Homo sapiens: one gene and its partners. The protein of the gene in region 1 interacts with the protein of each later gene in a pairwise test. Each region holds a gene or a part of one and is shown on either strand. Other genes may lie near its edges.

Region 1 (7,106 bases):
TGCACTCCAGCCTGGGTGACAGAGTAAAACTCCGTCTCCAAAAAAACAAAACAAAACAAAACAAAAAAAACACCAAGCTGTATCCCTAACCTCATCAGACACACTGTCCCATATGGCTGCTGGTGTGACCACTGGTTGCTGACAAGTCTAGAGGTGTCAATGCTAACGCTAAAACCAGAAAGATGAGGCCTTTAACCCAACGCCAACACTCAAAGTAGTGATCTGCCCTCATGTACCCACCTCTTTGGAAGAAAAAAGAAGTGTGGCGATTGTCTTATGAGAAGGCTGGCAGCGGTCCTTCCCTTCCCCTGACATACTGTGCCACCAAAGCCCACAGCCCTAAGTGGAAACACATTCATACTCCTGGTGTCTTTTGGTGGTGGTGGTAGAAGAAAGGGGTGCCCCTGGTAAAATTAGCTGGGCATGTGGCAGACTTCTGAGCCGAAAAGAGGCTCAAAGTAGGGCCAGGATTGTTTTGAGACAACTTCTGAAACACAGAATATGCTGTTTCTCTTCTCTTCACTCCACAGGCTGGTCTCCCAGTGCGTTTAGGACCCTGCTTTTGAGGCATCCAAGTGGGAGAGCCTCTGTTCATGACAAAAGGGAACCTCCCACCAGCCTGAGGGCGGGACGCTGAGGACCCCAGAGCCCTGCCTCCAGGCTGCTGTCGTAGTGTGACACAGCAACTTCCGAGCAGGAAGGAGAAGCCCGATCCTAACTGGGGGAAGCTGTTTGCTTAGACAACTTTCTACACTTCAAATATTACACCTTAAACAACACACTGGACTAAGAAATCTGATCATGTCCAGGCTTTTAACACCCTCCTCCCCCAAGGAACAATAAAACACACCAGCGAAAACAAAGAGGCTGCCCTGAAAAGGTTGCAGTGGTGGATGATACTGGCAGAATCAGAAAGGAAGCTAAGAGAAACAGGCGCGTCCTCAGCCGGGCCTCGCGTGTCCTGACACTGCAGCAGGCACGGGATGTGGGCTGTCCCCTCCAGCACAGTGCGGGAAGGTGCTGGGGCATCCAAACAGCAAAAGCAAACCTGAGACCCCAAAACAACTGCGTCTGGCCCAGGGGAGTGGGCAAAAATTCCAACAGGGAGAGACCGTCTCTGGCTTATTTACAGACAGGGTAAGTAAGGATGCCCAAAGACAAGGCGGAGTATTAGTAACAGAACTCATGAAGTTCTATGGATCGGGATGCTTTAAAAAAAAAAAAAAAACACCAAAGCTCATCCAGAATGTCTGAGGTCCCTGCAGTAACATCCATGCTAATTGGTAAGTAAGACAAAGCCTCCCCTAACAAATCAGCAATGTAATTATAAAGCCAGTCACTAGATCAAGCCAGTCTCCTGTGCTCCAGCGATATTCTGAACCTGTAACCCGATACCACTGTTTGCTGCCGGCGCCTCCTCCGGGCTCTCCCGCTGCGCACCGGCCGCGCGGGGGCCCGCAGGGCAACGCAGCCTAGGCTGTTTGTGCAAGATGAGACCCTGCATTTGACGAAGACCTGCAGGAGCAATCCTCCCGGCTTTCTTGACAGTGAAGAAGAAGAAGAAGAAAAAAAAAGCCTGACGATACACTGAAATTCGAACAGGAAGTCAAGCCCCAAGTAAATTTAAGAAACAACTTTTACTGTTTGGGGTTGTTTTCTAAAGTCCAAATTTTTAAAATTCTAGTTTCTCCTCTCAGATTTTTACATGCTCCTATTAAATTGAAGGCAATTTCCAATACTGGAGGTTTGTCAAATATAAACTTTTCTCCTAGTAAAATAATTTTTTAAAAATGTTGACAGCTGCATTTAGTAAGCAAAAACATAGTCAAATTCTGGGAGGGAATGTTTCAAGTAAATATTTCTTTAGAATAAATTATGGCCTTGTTAGTACACATCTGGAAAGAGAATAGGCTTTTTAGAATATAAATGTCAAGTGGTATAAAATGTTTCTTATATCCTGTCTTAGTGGTTCCTCTGCCAGCTGGGAATTTTAAGTTTTAATCCCAACTCTTATGAAGCTATGGACACCAATTACCTTCTTCCAAGGACAATGAGAATGCTGCCAATTGTTTTATTTTATCTAAGGATTCTGGCTAAAAGTATGGTACACTTGATTTAAAAAAAAATTAGAAAAATGCTTTGTTTTCTCAGTTTTAAGGAATTTTTTTTAATTTATAAGGAAAAAGGATTACTTGGGAATGGCACACTTAATTCAAGTAAAAGGTTGAGTAGAATTATACAGTTTCTAACCTTAACTTAACAAAAACATAATATGCTCTGATGCCTGGAATTTGCTTTAAAATACTCCAAAACAAACAAACAAAAAAAAACCCAAAACCTGGCCATGTAGATGAAACAAGATTTGACAAAATGTTGATACCTGCTGAGGCTGGCTGATAAGTACAAGGCGGTGCTTTGTACTCTTCCTTTTACTTTTGAATGTGTTTGGAATTTTCCATAATAAAAAGTTAAAAACCACAGCACGCCAATACATATTTCTAAATTAAAACATATAAAATGAGCACAATAAATTACTCACACCCCCAGTGAAAACTATTATATTAATTTGATAGGGTTTTTTTTTTTTCTTCACACAGAAGAAAGCTATTAGTGCTCCATGTAAACAAGCACGCCCAATTCAAGTTGGAACTCTTTAAATTCTGGAAGACAGCACATCACATCCAGCCACGAGGGGGCGCAGCCGAGCAGCAAGGAGCGCAAAAGTCTCATTCTTCACTGCAATTTCTACCTACAGCTCTCTCAAAGTATACACATTTTCAAGATTGTTTCCAAATTCAGGTATCCACAGGACACTGCTAAGCAAGCTGGGAGCTTTGCCAAGGCCAAAATAAATTAAATTATGGTACGGTTCAAACTCTGGAAGTACTGTGTATAGGAAAGGTTGTTTCTCTGTATATAAAAGTTAATACTGGTATTTCAAAAACCATGGTTAAAATCCCTGGAGGATTCCTGAAATGAGAACAAACACACAACAACAAACACACACCCAAGTCATGAGATGTGAACGTGGAGAAACCAACAGTTCAGAATTTCCAGTGGGGCTTGCAACATGGACTCCCAATAAAACAATGAGTCTCAATAAATTCGGCACTAAGCTTTTACCAGTATAGATAGACGCCTTTACTGGGCCTACTTACTACTTCTTAATAACTATAAATTATCTCCATACTGAACAGATACTGCTTCAGGCAGTTATTTGGGAAAACCCTTCATAAAGGACATTGGAGAGGGGCCATTTAATTATAAAATGTAACACAGTTAACCTTAGGGAGATGATGAAGCGAGATCATTATGTGTAACTACTTGCTGGGATTCTTTCTATTTAAATTATAAGTTCAGGTTATATGATGTTGTATGTTCAATAATAATGCTCATAATAGATGAAATGTTATAATGAGTCTCCACATTTGAAAATTGGAAACTATAAACATATCTATATTTTATAATCATTTGAATTGTGATACTACTTCATAATAATTTGGTGTCAGAGTATGTTTTTAGCATTTTGAGTCTAAGGCCTCATTAACATTAGGGTAAGGAACTCTCAGATTTGACAATTTTTCCCATAAGATTACGTGCTTTACTAGTAAAGACTAGCCAGCATTGCCCAACCTCCCATTCTCGGGCATAATGAAAATATTTTTTCTCCTGTATTTATAATTGCTTGGATGGGATTCTGTTTCAATCCTCCTGTAGCATCTTTTCCCTAAAGATACACTGTTTTTCTCCCTCACACTAGAGACCCTTAATAAACAATGTCAAGGAGGTGGGGAACTTAGAGTAGAAAGGAAAGGCTTTGCCAAAAGTATGTGACAGTTTTTGTGTTTAAAAAAAAAAAAAAAGACTCAAGATATATGTAAGTCTTACTAAAACAGGGAAATATAAGGTTTTAGAACAATTCTGTGAAAGATAAAATTACATCTTAGTTAAAACCAAAGGTGGCCTTCTAGGTTTTATTAGACAACTATTTGCCACTGAATAAAACTAAGGAATAAAAGTAAAGTATGCTACTTCAAGAAATGCTTCAATGGAAGCTTTTCTTAAAAGTTAAAAATTAAAAACTAGTCATGCCTTCAAATCTGGATGCTTCATTACTATCAAAGAATCACTTAAAATATTCCTTACAAATACAGAACATATTTCATCTTATAACTTATCCGTGCAGTCCAAAGAGGAAAACCTGAGAAATGTTGTTTCTTTTACTTACTGTGTAAAACTGAACATTGTATTGTACGGCCTAAACTTGGATTCCCTAGAGAACAATATCACATTTCTACAACATGACATGAGTACAAAAATTTGAGGTGCAGGATAATAGAAATATACTTGAGACATGCAAATGGAAGGAAATAACTATTTTATGTAATACCTGTCCCATGTAAGTAACCTACATGTTCCGAATGTTTAATTTGGTTGCCTCTAAGAATTAGGTAGGCTAATAAGGTTTTACAAAGACAATTTAAACTTTGTATCATATACCTGAATAATTCACACACAGACAATAATTGTAGAAAGAAAAAGGCAATGAGGATACAACTAAACTTGAGGGGAGTAAATGATACTTTGTAAATATGGCAGCCATTAAAGAATAACTACTTTGGGACTATTTTGAGATAAAATGTTTGTCTTCCCAAGGACTTCTGTGCATTGATAATGAATGGCTCATTGAACTTTAAGCTATGTCACTTAAATACAATAAAAATAATCAGAGTACCACACTAAATGTAATAACTATTTATTTTCTAAGGAAAATACTTCATAATTCTTCAATTACCTTCAATGGTCTTCATGGAAAGCCTTCCTCAACCTCCCCAGCCTGCCACCCCCAGCCTGCCACTCTATTCATTCTACCTGTCTTCTGGAGCTTTAGAAGGAGGCAGGAACCACCTGAAGAATTGAATTTTTAATGTGTAAACCAACTACTTGTCAGAGAGCTAAGAATCACTGCCAGTGAAACGTATTTTATTTTATATTTCTGGACATGGTAAAACTATTTAAAAAAATTAGTTTGCCTTAAAAAGTTCAGAAAAGACCACCAAGTTCCTGACAAGCAGAGAGGCAGAGCAAAAATTCTTCCACTCTGGATCATAGCACCCAAATTCCTCAGGCAGATTGGTTTTCTCTGATAGCACGGAAGACACAGGAGAGGTACAGATGGGCAGGGAGATGTCCCCTCAAAGAAGGAAAGAAATCTGAAAAGCAAATCTGTATCACCTATTATAAAATGGGATAACCACACAGGGAAGATCAGTTTAAAGCAGCTGCCAGCTCGATATCTCATTAGCGTGACTAGGATTTTATGCAAACCTGTTCTGGTGTAGAGATGACCTTGGGACTTTCAGATTCTCTGAGTTTAACTTGGGCAATACTTCTAAACACAAGGGTGGGGTACACCAGCAGGCCTGCTCCAAACCCCAGGAGCTGCAGTGCATGGCGTGGAATGATAAGCAGCCGGCCGGAGCAGAGGCAAGCAAAGCGCTAAAGGCTGATCTGGAGCAAGAGACTTTTGATCATTTAGTGTTTTTGACCATGGTCTATTCAAGTGTACATTTTACTTTTCTTCAACAGGTTCACTCAGCCCACTGTTAAACATCAGTGAGTGTGCATATGGATATACAGAATATATAGACATAGATCATGTCTGTAAGAACCAGAATCCCTTCCCCTTTACTATTCTATGGGAAAGTCCTTAGAGAATGCTTAGCTTCTTTTCAGTTAACTGCCTAGGAAGGTTTTTAAAGGAAAAAAGCTTAGAATTAATTAGTAACTCTGCAAAGCTACAGGTTTTTGTAAAGTGACAAAAAAGATAGTAAGGCAGACATGAATGAGTTTTAAGAACTGAAGTTTGCTGCTACCTGGAGTTACTAGAGAAACAAAGCTGCCTTTGGGCACCTCAAACTAGTCAGACCTGCTATAGCAGTTGCACAGTCAGCTCCAGATCTGTCCTCTGCTCTTCTCCCTCCAGCCCCCACCCCACGCCTCCGCATAGCTCAGTCCACTCTCTACTCAGGGTGGAGGTGGGCCGGGCACACTCACCCCTTGATCTGCTGTCCCTGTGGGGAGGCAGGGCCAGCTCTGGCCAGACAGTGTGCAAGTGTAAGAATAGGCCGGCCAGGAGCACAGATGCCAACTCCATTCTGAGCTGAAAACTGCAATGGGTGCGGAATACAGCTTAGGTGATCTTGGGTTTCCAAAATAGATCAATCAAATTGTGGGGTTTACTTCAGAGAATCCTAGCATTAAGTTCAGATGAGGGACAGAGGATTCTGAGAAAAGACAAATGGGTCTTTCCAGCTTTGGGATCCCTCAGACCACAAAGAGGGCAGAATTTTCAAAAGAGAGTTTGCGCTGTCTATATGTGGTGCTTGTTCAAACTGGCAGTATCTGTTCTGTCCTATTAGAAATCATATATTATAAAATATATTGTGATATTTTACTTTAAAATTTTCATTTGTATTTCAAAGAAAATTTTTAGACAGCCAATCATGTTTTGTTTGTCTCGTGATCTCCGAGAAAAAAAAAACAAAACAAGGAGTCTATTTATTACTCAGAATAGGAATGTCGTCTTATTGGGCTGACATATGCCATTCACAGATTCATACAAAGAATGAACTGCCACACAGTGCTAATGGAGAAAGACACTGCTCCACACAATGAGTGACGGACGCTCCAGGGGACAGTTCTGTTCATAAGGGTTTCCCAGCATCTGCACACAGGGCATAAGTTTGCCTTTAATATCAACTGCACTGGCCATTTGAGACAATCATTTTTTCTAGATTAGTAGCCATTTCCTTCAAACATACTAAAACTAAATGAAATAGCCACACATTTCTTAAACAGGAGTCCTGGCTTGTGGCTTTCTACCAATTGCTTAATGAGTAATTATTAACAATATGTACAAAATATATGAGTTGTGCATATAAAGTGGCCATGGCACTTTTAGATTTTCATGTTTTGCTAGTCAGTATTAATTAACAGAAAGACCTATGAGAGCTGGTGTCACCCTTATTGTGAGGCCATTTTCATGTCAACTGGAGCTTGCCTTCTGGTGCCTTCAGTACACAACTGATCTTTGGACTCAGTAA
Region 2 (7,183 bases), on another chromosome or scaffold:
TGCGCTCCAGCCTGGGCAACAGAGTGAGACCCTGTCTCAAAACCAAAACAACCAACCAACCAAAAAAAACCCCACAAAATCCCTGACATCCTGGAACTTATATTTTAGACAGAGCTACTAATAATAAAGAAGATAAACAGGTAAATATTTACAAAGGTTTTAGATGACAATTAACTACTGAGGAGAAAAACCAGAGAATGGGGATAGGAAGTGCTGAGGTGGAGAGTGAAATTTTAGATTGGGTGAGGAGAGAAGTCTTCACCAAGAAATTGATCTTAAATAAATACCTGATGGAGAGAGATGAAAGTCATATGAATAGCTAGGCAAAGAGAGCGTGTGCAAAGGCCATGGGGCTGGAACATGTTTAGCGAGTTCCAGGAAAAGCAAGGAAGCCAGTGACATCAGAGAGGCAACAGGGGGCCAGGCATGTGCCATGAGAGGAGAGGCCACTGCAAAGAAACAACATTTTAACAAGATCACTCTGGCTGGGTGTGGGGTAAGAAACAGAGAGGCATCATAGATAATCTCACAGCTTTGACCTGAGCAACTGAATGAACAATACTCCTATGTCCTAAGATGAGAAAGAGAGTGGGAGGGACATGTTTTGGTGAAGAGTGGGGTCAGGGATGGAGGGCAGAACTAACAGGAGCTCAATTCTAAACTCTTAAGTTTGAGGCCTGGCGCGGTGGCTCACACCTGTAATCCCACCACTTTGGGAGGCCAAGGCAGGTGGATCACTTGAGATCAGGAGTTCGAGACCAGCCTGGCCAACACGGTGAAACCCCGCCTCTACAAAAATACAAAAATTAGTTGGGCATGATGGCGCATGCTTGTAATCCCAGCTACTTGGGAGGCTGAGGCAGGAGAATCAGGAGGTGGAGGTTGCAGTGAGCCGAGATCGTGCCATTGCATTCCAGCCTGGGTGACAGAGTGAGACTCTGTCTCAAAAAATAAATAAATCAATAAATAAATACTTCAAGTTTGAAAAGCCTAAGTTTGAGGTGCTGAGTAAGCAACTAGATTTGAGTATGTCATTCCAGGGAAAGGTCTGGACTGGACTGGGGATATAAATTTGTGGGCTGACAGAATAGAGACGGCACTTAAAGAAATAAGACTGGATGAGATCACCATCCGAAAACGAGAAGAGGCATTTAAGACATGACCCTATCAAAATCCACTGTGAAAGACACAGAACATATTCTCCCAGGGAGCCACCCTCTACAAAGTGAAGTTTGTAACACACTCTTCACTACGGCCCCTTACTCCTTGCCTACCTACTTCCCCCAGCACACACACCCAATAGATGTCTGCAGACACACACACACACACACACACACACACACACACACACACACAGAGTATTTAAATTTCTCCTTTCTGTATCTCTTAGTGATGTCATTCTGCTGAGTAAGAGGGAAACTCCCTTTTGGGGAGTCTCTCATGTAACAAGAAAGTAATCCACGGAAGGAACAAGAAGTGTCCTAAACAGTAGCAAACCTTACACATCAGGACAATCACACAGGCTCTGGTGTCAGATTCCAGCTTCAACCTCATCGGTGTGACCTCAAGCAACTCATGCGCCCTCTTTTTCTCATGTGAAGTGAGAATATCATTGGCCACACCAAGGGTAGCCTAGAACATCAGACAGTCCGTAAATATTTGTTAGATAAACGATGACTGAATGAATGGTGAAGAGAACATATACAGAAGAGCCTGACTCACAAGAGGTGATGAACAAACACTGCCAAATGATACACTGAAAGACAAGGGACCTCCTGCTCATCCTTCTCTCCTTGTCTTCTCATTCTAGCCCTTTCCCTTTCCACTCCTTTCAATTCTGCCTATGACCCAACAGTAAAATCATGTATTTGTACAGGGCCATACTGGTTATAAAGCTTTACCTTCTACATTTTCTCATTCAAATTTTGAACCTCATGGCAGACTTACGAGGGCAGGAGGTACAGTTCCCCTGTCACAGATGAGGAAACTGAGACTTGGACAGAAAACAGGTTCCAAACTCCAGGCAGAAACTCTAACAAAAACAATGCATTCAAAAACAATGCATTCAGCCCAAGGGTGCAGCCTCAACGTTGCCAAACCGAACCTGCCTGACATCCTGTTGGGCGGGTAAGAGGCAGGTGAGGGAAAGACCCAGAAGCTAGGGGGAGGTATTCGTTGGGGTCATGTGGGTAGCCCATTAAAAATACGGCCACAGGTCCCCTTGCCCTGTGCCCTCCCTGTCCCACACCCACAGGCTTGCCCCGACCCAGTCCCATGATCACCCTGGTCACATGCTCCCTGTCACCAGCTTCCAAGTCATCTGTGGGAGCAGGAGGTGGACACAGGATTAGGGGTGGGAGACTCTGGGGTGGCCAGGCTGAGGGGAAGGAGGGAGCATGTCGGGGGCAGGTCTGGAGGCACGCGAGAGAGGAAAGGCAAGGAAAAAAAGCAGGGAGGAAAGGCAGGAGAAGCAGGGAGTGAGAAATGAGTAGAGGCACCACGAAAGGTGGAGACGGACGTGAAGTGGGGAATCAAGTGAGCACTTAGAGGAGCACAGGAAGGAAAATTAGGACGGCCAATGGGGCCTAAAGAGGCACTGAGGGTCGGGGAAAGAGAAGAGATGGATTGACTCGGGAAGTTAGGGATACTGAGGGAGACACACGGAGGAGACTGGGGTTCAGGGGAGAAACTCAGGGTCGAAGCTGGGGTCCCTGGGGTCCACAAGTTCGAGATGAGACACGGGCGGTCTCGGGATGGGAATTGGGGACGCAGGGGGATGAAAAGATGGAAGGTGGGGGCACTCAGGGAGTCACATAAGGGTTAATGGAGGACATGCCTCAGAATCGGAGACACGAGGAATATCCAAAGGAGGGTCCGGCGGAGACTTGGGAGTCCGGAGCGCCGAGGAAGTTGGGGAACGGACCCCCAGGCCCCGCCCACCCGCGAGGTCACTCACCTCGGCTTACTCAGCACTTCTACTTCCTCCTACTTCCGCAAACAAACGGGCCTCGGGCCACGTGATGGCCTGACCACCGCTCTCCGCCAATCACTGGTGGCCCTGTCCCAGGCCTCCTCTAGGCTCCGCCCCCGCGCCCGAGGACGGCGGGAGGCGGGGTCCGCCATTTTTTTTAACTGCCCAATGGAAGGGGCTCCCTTAGCCAGGAGGACGAGCTTTCGGCGGGAGCCAATCCTCGGCGGCGAGGCGCGGCCATGTTTGTGCGGGGCAGAAGGTGCCCGGCTTCTTGGCAGTCCTGTTGATGAGGGCCAGGAGTCCTACCCTAGTCCGCCTTCCGCCTCCTAAAGCGACCAGAGCCTGGAGTCTGAAGTTACTGTTAATGATTGCTCGTAAAGATAAAAATAAAGGCAACAGAGGCATAGGGCATAACAAGGAGGAACCTGTTTTGATTTTTGCCAGGTAGCCTCAAGCCAGGGTTGCCAGATGTAGCATATAAAAAATACGGGATGTTAAGTTACATTTGAATTTCAGCTAAACAGCCAATACATTTTTTTCCGATAGAACAGAAATTGATTATAGCTTTTTTATTTTTCACAACTAAGGCCAAATTCCCTAGGGGAATTACCACATGTCCTTTTTTTTTTTTTTTTTGAGACAAGTCTCGCTCTGTCGACCATGCTGGAGTGCAGTGGCACGATCTCGCTCACTGCAACCTCCGCCTCCCGGATTCAAGCGATTCTCCTGCGTCAGCCTCCCGCGTAGCTGAGATTGCAGGCGCCCGCCACTACGCCCAGCTAATTTTTTGTATTTTTAGTAGAGACGGGGTTTCACCATGTTGGCCAGGCTGGTCTCGAACTCCTGACCTCAAGTGATCTGCCCGCCTCAGCCTCCCGAAGTGCTGGGATTACAGGCGTGAGCCACCACGCCCGGCTCCGAAATTTTTAACATAAGTATAATATACTAAGTTTAGTATTGTGTTAAAAATGTGTGCATTGTTGTCTGGCAACACACCCTGAGCCAGTCTCAGGAAATACCTTAGCACTTTCAGTAGGAACTTGGGCAAATGATCTCTGTGAACCTCAGACCCATCATCCAGGAAGTGGGCACAGTAATACAAGATTGTTGTAATATCTAGAAGTAAATTGGTCCCCATTCGTGCACATAGTGGGATTTCAATAAATGGCAGTTGTTAGGGTTAATAATGCCGATAATGAGGTATTTTGCAGAGAAGCCAGGAGACTAGACTTTAGTCACACATCTGCTTCGGACTGAGCAGGTCATGTCCTCTCTTCAGCCCACTGGCTTGGTTGGACCTTTTCTTTCCCTAATAATCACCCAACCCTAGGTCTAGATGAATCTGCCAGACTGCTCTCCATTTACGTGGGAAGTATAGTTGCGGGTGTCATTCTTGTGAAAAGAAGCGTGTAGGCCGGGTGCGGTGGCTCACGCCTATAATCCCAGCAGTTTGGGAGGCTGAGGCGGGTGGATCACTTGAGGTCAGGAGTTTGAGACCAGCCTGACCAACATGGTGAAACCCCATCTCTACTAAAAATACAAATAATTAGCTGGGTGTGCTGGCCATAGTCTGTAGTCCCAGCTGCTCAGGAGGCTGAGGCAGGAGAATTGCTTGAACCCAGGAGGCAGAGGTTGCAGTGAGCCAAGATCATGCCACTGTACTCCAGCCTGGGTGACAGAGCCAGACTCTGTCTCAAAAAAAAAAAAAGTGTGTTTCCTCCTTAGTCCGTCTAAAGATATTAGTGCCTAGACAGGGCAGCCAATGCAACTTGCGCAAGGTTTAGTTAAGAATCTTCACAGGTTAATGAAATTAACCATCTTAACTAATATCTGTACAGAGCTTTACCAGTTACAAAGTGACTTCACTTCCATCATATCCTCGTGTCCCCATTTTACAGGTGAGGAAATTGTTCCTTAAAGTAAGATTTAAAATTTGCTTAAGAGTTTCAGCTTGACTGCGCACAGTGGCTCACGCCTGTAATCCCAACACTTTGGGAGGCCGAGGTGGGCAGATCACTTGAGCTCAGGAGTTCAAGACCAGCTTGTGCAACATGGAGAAACCTCGTCTTTAAAAAAAATACAAAAATTATCCAGGTGTGGTCTTGCATGCCTTTGGTCCCAGCTACTGTGCAGGGGAGGCCGGGGGGTCAAGGATGCAGTGAGCCAAGATCGCCTGCACTCCAGCCTGGGTGACAGAGCGAGACCATGTCTCAAAAAAAAAAAAAAAAAAGTTTCAGCTTGAAGTGGAGAGAAAAGGATAAAGACTCAGAATTCTCAATGAAAATATCTTGCCTCCACACCCCAAACAAGCAAAGTTAGAGCGATGGTTATCAAGGAGCTTGCAAAAGGCCATGCATTCCACGCACTGCCAAGCAATCTTTCCTTCCTGAGAAAACCCACAGGGGCAACATGAGGTGTCCCATTCTTCAACAAACACCCACCCTTGCATTCAGGATTTTGCAAAGCACATTTGGAAATGCAGATACACAGGTGAATCTAAAATGCAGACAAGGGCCAGGTGTGGTGGCTCATGCCTATAATCCCAACACTTTAGGAGGCTGAGGCGGGTGGATTACCTGAGGTCAGGAGTTCGAGACCATTCTGACCAACATGGTGAAACCCCGTCTCTACAAAAAAATACAAAAAAATTAGTCAGGCGTGGTGGCAGGCAACTGTAATCCCAGCTACTGGGGAGGCTGAGGCAGAAAAATCTCTTGAACCCAGGAGGTGGAGGTTGCAGTGAGCTGAGATCACACCAGTGCCCTCCAGCCTAGGCGACAGAGCAAGACCCCATCTCAATAAATAAATAAATAATAAAATGCAGAAAAGGCCAAGAGAGGCTGGATCAATTGCTGGAAACAGTCAAAGATCCACAGAAGACATTCACAAAATAGAATCTCAGTACCTGATGAAGTTAAGTATCCCTTCCCTAGGTATTTCTGGTGGAAACCATTTAATGAGTAGATAAATCAAAAGATGGAATAGAGGGGATTATTAGGTAGCATTGAATGAGCAAGTAAAGGGATGGGGCAAGTAAGCACGAGGGAGTGTGTTCTGTAGTGCTAGCAGATGGAGCTGCTAGCAGTTAAAGTCAAAAGAACTTCTCCTGAGGTGTTGTGCTAGGCTCCTCCCATACATCAGGGAGGGCGTCTGCCCTCTAAGAGCCCAGAGCACAGAGGGTCAGACTAGACTAATCTTTTCCTTCAAGGAGCTAGATGGAAATCTAACTAACATGCTAACAGTGCAATATCACACCTTTTACTTTTTTTTGGAGACAGAGTCTCCCTCTGTCACCCAGGCTGGAGCGCAGTGGCGCGATCTTGGCTCACGGCAACCTCCACCTCCCAGGTTCTAACTGATTCTCCTGCCTCAGCCTCCCGAGTAGCTGGAATTACAGGCGTGCACTACCACGCCTGGCTAATTTTTGTATTTCTAATAGAAACGAGGTTTCACCAAGTTGGCCAGGCTGGTCTCAAACTCCTGACCTCAGGGGATCCACCCGCCTCAGTCTCCCAAAGTGCTGGGATTACAGGTGTGAGCCACCACCCCCAGCCGACTTCTTACTTTTTTATCCTTGCAACAGCCCTGTGATATAGTACTGCCATCCCCACTTTGTAGATGAAGAGAATGAGGTTCCACAAGGGAAAATTATCCCCAGAGTTGCCAATGAGAGGCAGTGCCAGTTGCCAGTGTCAACGAGAGGCAGAACCAGAATCAGCACCTGTCTTGTCTTTTCTCTCTCCAAACTCTAGGAGCACTCATTATGTGCCAGGCAGTGTTCTTGGTGCACGTGTAATCCCAGGCACTGAACAAAATGGACAAAAATCCCTGCCTTTGTGCTGCTCACATCCTGGTGGGGAAAGACGGAGAATAAACTAGATAGAGAAGGAAACAGAGAGTGTGTTTTGCTAATGTCTTTGAGTGAGGGTGTCATCATGTTAGCATCTTACATTCAAAGCACCTTAACTGTGGGATCTGGGCATGTCTATTTGAATACCTTTGCACTAGTCCTCCAATTATCTGTGTGTTTGAACTTTTTCTTTCTTTCTTTCTTTTTTTTTTTTTTTTGGAGACAGGGTCTGGCTCTCTCACCCAGGCTGGAGTGCAGTGGGGTGATCTTGGCTGACTGCAATCTCTGCCTCCTGGGCTCAAGCGATCCTCCCATCTCAGTGTCCTGAGTAGCTGGGACTACAGGTTCAGGCCACTATGCTT
Region 3 (7,248 bases), about 170 Mb from region 1:
GGAGTGCAGTGGCACAATCCCAGCTTACTGCAACCTCCGCCTCCCAGACTCAAGTGATCCTCCCACCTCAGCCTCCTGAGTTGCTGGGACTACAGGCAGTCACCACCATGCCTGGCTAATTTTTAAATAAATTTTTTTGTAGAGATGGAGGTCTCGCTACATTGCCCAGGCCAGTCTTGAATTCCTGGGCTCAAGCAATCCTCCAGCCCCAGCCTCCCAAGATGCTGGGATTACAGGCATGAGCCACTGTGCTCGGCCCAAGTCTCCCAGTTTTCAATGGTGGAAACTTCTTTAAAAGCCGTGTGGGTCTGAGAGAGACTGTGGCCAGCCAAGGCTGAGGGTGGTGTGGACGCTCTGGAGAAAAGCCACAGAAGCGAATCCCAAAGGCCTTTGCCAAGCAGTCCAGGATGGGAACACCCGGGAATGAGAACCCGATTCCACAAGCAAGCTGTCGGGGCTTGTCCTGGAGCTAAGGGGGTGTGGGGGACTGAGGCCTCTGGGGCAGCGACAGGAAAATGAGATGCTGCCTCGAAAAGAGAAGAGCCGTGGTCAGAGGTAGGTGGGTCCCTGGGGGACAGGAAGGTTCGCCCTCAGCCAAGACAGTAGGAGGCAGAGGGCCTGTTCCTATGACAACAGTGACCTTTGTAAGCAGGGCGAGGACTGGAGGAGCTTCCAGGTGGGGAGGGAGGCCATCTGCCTTACTGGCTGTCCTGACCCTGGTCCTTCCTCGTTGCCCATCCACTAATTCCAGCAGGGGGCACAGGGCCCCAGAGACGATGAGGCCAGCGCCCGGCTCTAGGGGTCCCAGCACAGGGGTGGGGCAGTGCAGAGGCAGCTCCAGCCTCTGTGTCCCCAAGTCCACTAGACAGTCCCCACTCCTGTCAGGTGATGGGAGGGTGCCCTCACAGGTTGCCAGCTGCCCACGTCCCCAGCTGTTTTAGGTCCCGAGATGCCCCCAGGTGGGGCCAGAGCTGCCCTGGGCATCACAGCAGCATCTTGCCATCGTCACCGCCCCCAGCCACTCTCCAAGCTGAAGCACTGGCCTGTGTCCCCTTGGGCCCTGGCATGGCACTGCCACTGCCTGGCCTGTGGGTAGAGGCCTCATTGCCCTTGGCTCCTGCCAGCTCACCCCCACAGTGACAGCATGCCCGCCTGCAGGATTCACCTCAAAGGCCACCAGCCTGTCCTCTTGGCCCTCCATGGTGCAGCCTCCCCTTGGCCAGCTCGCCCCAGGCTGCCCCCCCAGGCGGGACTTTGGGCTCCTTACCTGCCATGCGCGGCTGTCAGGAGCTTGAGGCAGGTCAGGTCCCCACTGACGGCAGCGTGGTGCAGCGGCCGGGCTCCCTCCCGGGTCTCTAGCGTGGCCGAGTGGCCCTCGTGGAGCAGCCACTCCACCAGCACTGGGTGTCCAAAACGGGCGGCCAGGTGCAGCGGGGAGACGCCCGAGGCATCTTGGTCCTACCAAGCCCCGGGTAGGTCAGTGAGTGGGGGGTAGGCCGTGAGGTCAGAGCCAGCTGCCGGAGGTGGGCCCTGGGCGAGGGCTCACACTGCCTGCAACCCAGTGAAGGGGCTTCCAGCTCCTTCCTCCTTCCCTCCGTTTCTGCCTGCAACATGGAGGGAGGTGCTCCCTGCTGGGACTGAGGTGAGAGGAGGGCCAGGACTCAGGTCCAGGTCTTGGGAGGCCACCTCTGGCAACCCTGCCCTCTCCTGGGCCCGTCCCCAGTGTGGAGAAGGCCCTTTCCCACGCAGTCGGGTGCCCGCAGACACCTGCCCACTCTGCTCATGGTCAGAAAGGCTTCCCAGGACACCTACCTCTGGCTGGTCCCCTGCCCCAGTGCCCTCCCGCTGGCCACAGGGTCCCGGGGCCAGGGAGCGTTCCTACCACAGGTGTCAGGGGTCCAGCAGACCTGGGCCTTCTCCAAGGGCCCTGTCAGAATGGATCCCCAGGCAGGCACAGCTCCCGCCTGCTGCCCTTGGGTTTGGCGGAAGGGCCGACAGGAACAGGATGCTGGGCCGGGACTCTCAGGTGCTCTGGCGAGCCAGGTGCTGGGGAACCTTCCCGCTCCGCAGTCTAAGCAGGCCCCACCGGCCCCCACCTCAACTCTGACCTCTGGGCGGCGGCGTTCTAAGGCCGGTCAGTCCTGCTCACCCTCAGCCCTGAAAGCTCCACAGGGCTGAGCGACAGCTCTAAGGGCCTCGCCTGCACAAAGGGGACTGGGCAGGCAGGATAGGGGAGGGGGGCCCAGTAGAAACGATCCGGACAAGACGATCACCATCAGCAGCCCTAACTCCCGTCCCCCAGGGCTAGGCTCCCAGCTCTCAAGCCCAAGTTCCCACAGTGCTTCTGTAAGGATCCCTTTCTAGACCCTTTGGGAGGCAGGCCCTGTGGACCAGGCCTGATCAGAGACAGGGGTCCTGATATCTGGCAAGACCCCCACTGGCAACGCCCAGCTTCCTGGCAGGGAAGGTGATAAGAAAATTTAGGAGGTGTTCTTGGCTCTCAAGCCTTTGTGCTCTGAGAGGCGTGGGGCAGAGACGGTAACCACTGACTGAGTCCCCAAGAGAAACAAAGGGCCCAGGGCCATGGAGCCCGGGGTGGCCAGTACTCTGATCCTCCGTGGCTCACACCTCCCTGGTTCCACCCCAGCCAGCTTCGTGGAGCCAGGCTGCCCCATCCCCGCTCACCTGCAGACCGCAGCCCCCCTCGCGGACCAGCCAGCACAGCTCGGCCAGGCTGCCCGTGGCAGCGGCGTCATGCGCTGGGGTGGCCCCGTTGTGGGCCCGCTGGTTGCCGGGCAGCTGGGCCCGCTGCACCAAGAACTTGACGCAGTCCAGGTGGCCAGCCCGGGTGGCGTGGTGAACCAGGCCGGCCCCCAGAGCATCGGTGATGCCCGGGCCCAGGGCGCCAGCCTCCAGCAGCCGCTCCAACGTCGCCACATCCCCATCCTTGGCGGCCACGAGTGCCCGCTGCTTCTCCATCCTCTGGCCCGGGCTCTCAGTGGCGACTCATGCACAGGCTGGGGCTTCCTGTTTCAGACGTGGATGAAGCTGCCGGCTCTGGTTACCCGATAAGCTGCCACAGGGCAGATGGGAGGCGGTGGGGTGGGGTCGGGTGGGGGGACAGGCCTTGAGGACCTGCCCAAGCCACTCCCACAGTGTGAGGGTGCCAGGTGCCTGGAGCTGGGAGGATGGAGTACAGGGCACAGGGAAAGGCCCACACCAGGCTAGGTCAGGGCTGGGTATGGCCAGCAGAGAAAGGAGGCTGGCCCTGAGGCTGCTCAGATCTGTCCAGATGGCAGGAACTTCATCTGTGGAGCGAGGGCTGAGGATACACGCCACTGAGCTTCTCACAGGAGCCCCGAGTGGCCTGGGAGACAGTTCCCCCAACTCTCACAGAAGGGCAGACCCCCAGCCGCCACCACAGTGTGTCTGAAGTAAAGGGTGCCCAGTAGGTCTACATGTTTGGCTGTGTTGACACCCACAGAGCTGAGCGCCCCGCCTCTGGGTCCCGGCCCTCGGCCCTGGAGGCTCCTAGGAATCTCTGGGGACACAGTGGCTCCACGGGGCCTGCAATGGGCTCAGGACCCTGACTTGGGTGTGTCCAGGCCTCTGAGGCGAGAAGGTGTCAGCCCCTGCCTCGGCCCCCTCTCCAACTACACGGACCAAGTCTCTGGGCTGCAGCCCCAAGGGCCCAAGTACATTTAACCCCTTTCCAGATTGTTCTGGACAATCCATAGTTCTTCTTTAGGGAAGTCAGGACCACCACAGCCTCTTCCTGGCAGCAATGGGAAGCTGCAGATGGGGGACCCATTACATTTGTAGGGGCTTCCGGAGACACAGCCTCAAGCTGGATTTCTGGGCTAACGCATCATCACACAATGGTGACCTGGGGGCTGCTGCACCCCTGGCTTCCCCCCGACAGGCTCTGTCAGATGACTTTGTGCCCAAGCGCAGTGCCCACTAGAGAAACCACAGGATCCCCAAGTCGGGCACTGAAATCTTTTATTCGTTAATTTAGTTTCTGGCAAGTGTTTCCTCAAAATCATCAAGTAGTTCCTTGAACCGTAAAACCACACATTAAAAATGTTATTCCACTGAAAATGACTCCTATGCAAATATCGACATGTGATGTGTGTCCAAATGCCAGAGCATTTTGAGAAAAGAATCCTCTGCAAATAAAATTAAGGTAAAAGCTGAGTCAGGGATGATCCGATTCCCACCCCAGGAATGACCTGGAGCTGCACCAACTCAGCGAGGTTGGAGCTGAAACCCTGAGTTAATAATGATCAAAAGGGACAAGACAGGAAGGCCTGGGGACCGTGGACAGGGAAGTGCGCAGCCCTGATTGCCAGTGGGCGGAACAGGGTCAGGCTCGGGGAAGCAGGAGGGGTGGTGGGCGGTGGGCGCTGAGCAGAGCAGGCCTGGCCGAGGCTGGGGGCCACTGTGCACTGAGGCCAGAGGAGCAGGGTGGTGGGGGCAGCTTTGGAAAGGGACTAAAAAGGGCCTGAGAAGAGACCACTCTGGAAAGGTGCATGTAGAGGCCATGATCAAAACAAAAAAATCAAGTTTCCTACGTTCATGATAGCATTTGGCTGACAATGAGTTATAAATACTTGGATTCTATCTTCCAGATAAAAACACCTTCCAGGAAAGGGCACTCACAACAGGCGTGCCCAGTTCCCAGTGGGGAGGGTGGATAAAGCTAAGTGTTTCCGCTTCACCACTGGAGGACGGTTCTATGTGGGCGGTCCCATGTGGGCGGTCCCATGTGGGCGGTCCCATGTGGGCGGTCCTATGTGGGCGGTCCTATGTGGGCGGTCCCATGTGGGCAGTCCTATGCGGCGTTGGTGTCCTGGGCCCTGTGAGCTCTGCAGGGGTCCAGGGAAGGAAACTGGGGGTGCACACTCGCTGGCACTCCAGGACAAAATGCAGAGGGGGCATGAGACAGTCATCCTGGCACAGCCCTCAGGAGGGAACTGGAGGGACAACCCTGTGCCCTGCCACGGGCTTCCCAGAAGCGGGGTGGGGAAGGCGGCCCCAGTGCTAGGCCTGGTCCTCCAGCTGCGCCACGGCCTGCTTCAGGTCCTGCACGACGAGGTCCACCTCGGCCCTGGTGGTGCTGCGGCCCACGCTGAGCCGGAGCGCGTTCCTGGCCACGTCGAAGGGGACACCGTAGCTCAGCAGCACTGGGGACGGCCTGGGGAGGGCGAGACCGAGCTGCAGCTGCTGCTGAGGGCACATGGAAGAGACACAGCCCCCCCTGCTCTGGACCACTCCCCTAGTGGGGCTCTGCCCACCCGGATGTGCGCCTGCCTCGCCTGGCATCCACCTCCTGCTAAACTCCCAGACCAAGCACACCCCTAAGATCACCCACATCAAGGTGTGGCTCAAAGTCGCCCCCGTTCTCCCTGCAGAGTTCTCTTGCACTTGGCACTCCCAGGTGACACTGCCTCCCTCTCGCACTGAGCTCTGGGGCCAGGGGCTCTCCTGTCCTTGAGGGGTCTGAGGTCCTGGAGAACACGGATGCCGACACAGACAGTGCCTTACCCATGCGGCCCACCTGAGCCACTTGGTAACTTCATGGCACCTAGCATGGGGCTTTGCAGACACTAGGGACCCAGTCAGTATCTAGCCATGAACAGATGACTGCGTGGGGACATCCTGAAGCAAGGCTGTTGGAGGCTCGAGATGTGGGCTCTGTCAAGGGGCCTGACCTCATCACACCCGGGTCCCTTTCCTCCCCTGCCCCTCCTGCAGCAGGGCACTGTCCCCCCAACAAAGGGCCCCATCCTGCCCCTCCTTTTCCCTGGAGCCAGGCCCACCACTGTCTCGCTCCAGGTGCTCCTGCACAATCCCTCTGCCCTGACCTTGATGGCCACGTGCTGCTGGCTACAGTTCCGCTCTCTCCCCAGAACCCTGAGTGTTCCTCCTGCGTCCACTCCGACCTCCCACAGGGGCCTCACGTTTTCAGCAGACCAGACCCAGAACCACTTCTCCCCTGCTGCCAGCAGGCCGCTGCTCGGGCACCCCACGCCCTCTACCCCACAGTCTCCGCCAGGCAGCCCACCCGCTCACCCGGGCCCTGCTATCTGAGAATCTCTGCTGCATCTTGCAGATGGCTGATCTGACACCTGAGTCTGCTCACACCATGGCCCTCAGGGCTCCCACTTCCATGAGGTTTAAGTAAGCACTGACACTCAGGCCATCCCCACCCCAGCCCACCCCAGCCCGCCCCAGCCCTCCCCAGCCCCGGCCACGCTGGCCCTCCAGGCCCTGCCCTCCCTCCGCCTTCAGAACTGAGCACGAGAAGCCCTCTTCTCCCGCACAAGTCCTAGTCCTTCAGATGGCAGCTTGGAAGTCACTTCTTCCAGGAAGCCCTCCCTCTGCCCCTCCTAGGGCCCAGACAGGGCTGTCCTTCACCAGCCAGAGTGCGGCCCAGTGGCCGGATCCTGCCGCCTGCCCACCACACCCAGTGCCCGGAGGACCCCTATGCCCTGGACTGGGTTTGTGAAGAGCACTTACTGGTCCCCGTGGTCCGAGTGGCACGCGGCCCCCACACTGGCCATCAGCACTCGGCACTGCGCAAGCACCACGTGGCCTGCGGAGACAGAGCACATGCCCCTGAGATGGGGCTCCAGCCAGGTTGCCCTTCTGTCCCTTCCCGGGGTCCTGCTGGGCGCAGGCTGCTTCCCTCCCTCTGTGCCACCTGGTGGAATTCCAGCACTGGCCATTCTGGCAGCTGGGGAGAGATCTCACAGCAGGAGCCGAAGAAAACGCTTCCTTTCTCCCTTGGCTGCACAAACGCAGACACTATTCTGCCTCACAAAGCTGGCCTTGAAAATCGCATTTGTAATCAACTGCCTGCTAAGACACCTGGAGTCCTGACCCGCTCCTTCCTTACAAGCTGGCAGCCCCGGCAATATCACGTCTCCACCTGTGTTCTGGATGGTAGAGACACGTGGGAGTTCTATTAAGCCAGAAGGCATTTCCCTCTTCTTTCACAAGCACAGCCATTAATGACTGCTGATGTAATTAACCTGAGAATTTCAGCCAGGTGCAGTGGCTTACACCTGTAATCCCAGCACTTTGGGAGGCCAAGGTAGAAGGACTGCTTGAGCCAGGAGTTTGAGACCAGCCTGGGCAACACAGGGAAACCCTATCTCTACAAAATATTTTTTAAAAATTAGCCAAGGCCGGGCATAGTGGCTCATGCCTGTAATCCCAGCACTTTGGGGGGCCAAGGTGGGT

The links.
Region 2: the proteins of SERTAD2 (region 1) and PLA2G6 interact in binary tests that used the Homo sapiens proteins (3 or more experiments, as listed by UniProt).
Region 3: the proteins of SERTAD2 (region 1) and ESPNL interact in binary tests that used the Homo sapiens proteins (3 or more experiments, as listed by UniProt).

What each region holds. Positions count from the first base shown.
Region 1 is NC_000002.12:64,643,828-64,650,933, forward strand, and holds part of SERTAD2 (SERTA domain-containing protein 2), read right to left. Parts: intron 4,740-7,106; exon of another isoform or gene 2,598-4,739; intron 1,745-2,597; exon of another isoform or gene 1-1,744. UniProt on the Homo sapiens protein: Acts at E2F-responsive promoters as coregulator to integrate signals provided by PHD- and/or bromodomain-containing transcription factors.
Region 2 is NC_000022.11:38,178,828-38,186,010, forward strand, and holds the start of PLA2G6 (85/88 kDa calcium-independent phospholipase A2), read right to left. Parts: upstream 3,004-7,183; 5' UTR 2,837-3,003; intron 1-2,836. UniProt on the Homo sapiens protein: Calcium-independent phospholipase involved in phospholipid remodeling with implications in cellular membrane homeostasis, mitochondrial integrity and signal transduction.
Region 3 is NC_000002.12:238,096,151-238,103,398, reverse strand, and holds the start of ESPNL (espin-like protein), read right to left. Parts: upstream 3,060-7,248; 5' UTR 2,980-3,059; coding exon 2,686-2,979; intron 1,459-2,685; coding exon 1,268-1,458; intron 1-1,267. Other genes in the region: SCLY (selenocysteine lyase), read right to left, coding at 5,044-5,197, 6,523-6,598. UniProt on the Homo sapiens protein: Binds to but does not cross-link actin. Required for the formation and maintenance of inner ear hair cell stereocilia and staircase formation. Essential for normal hearing.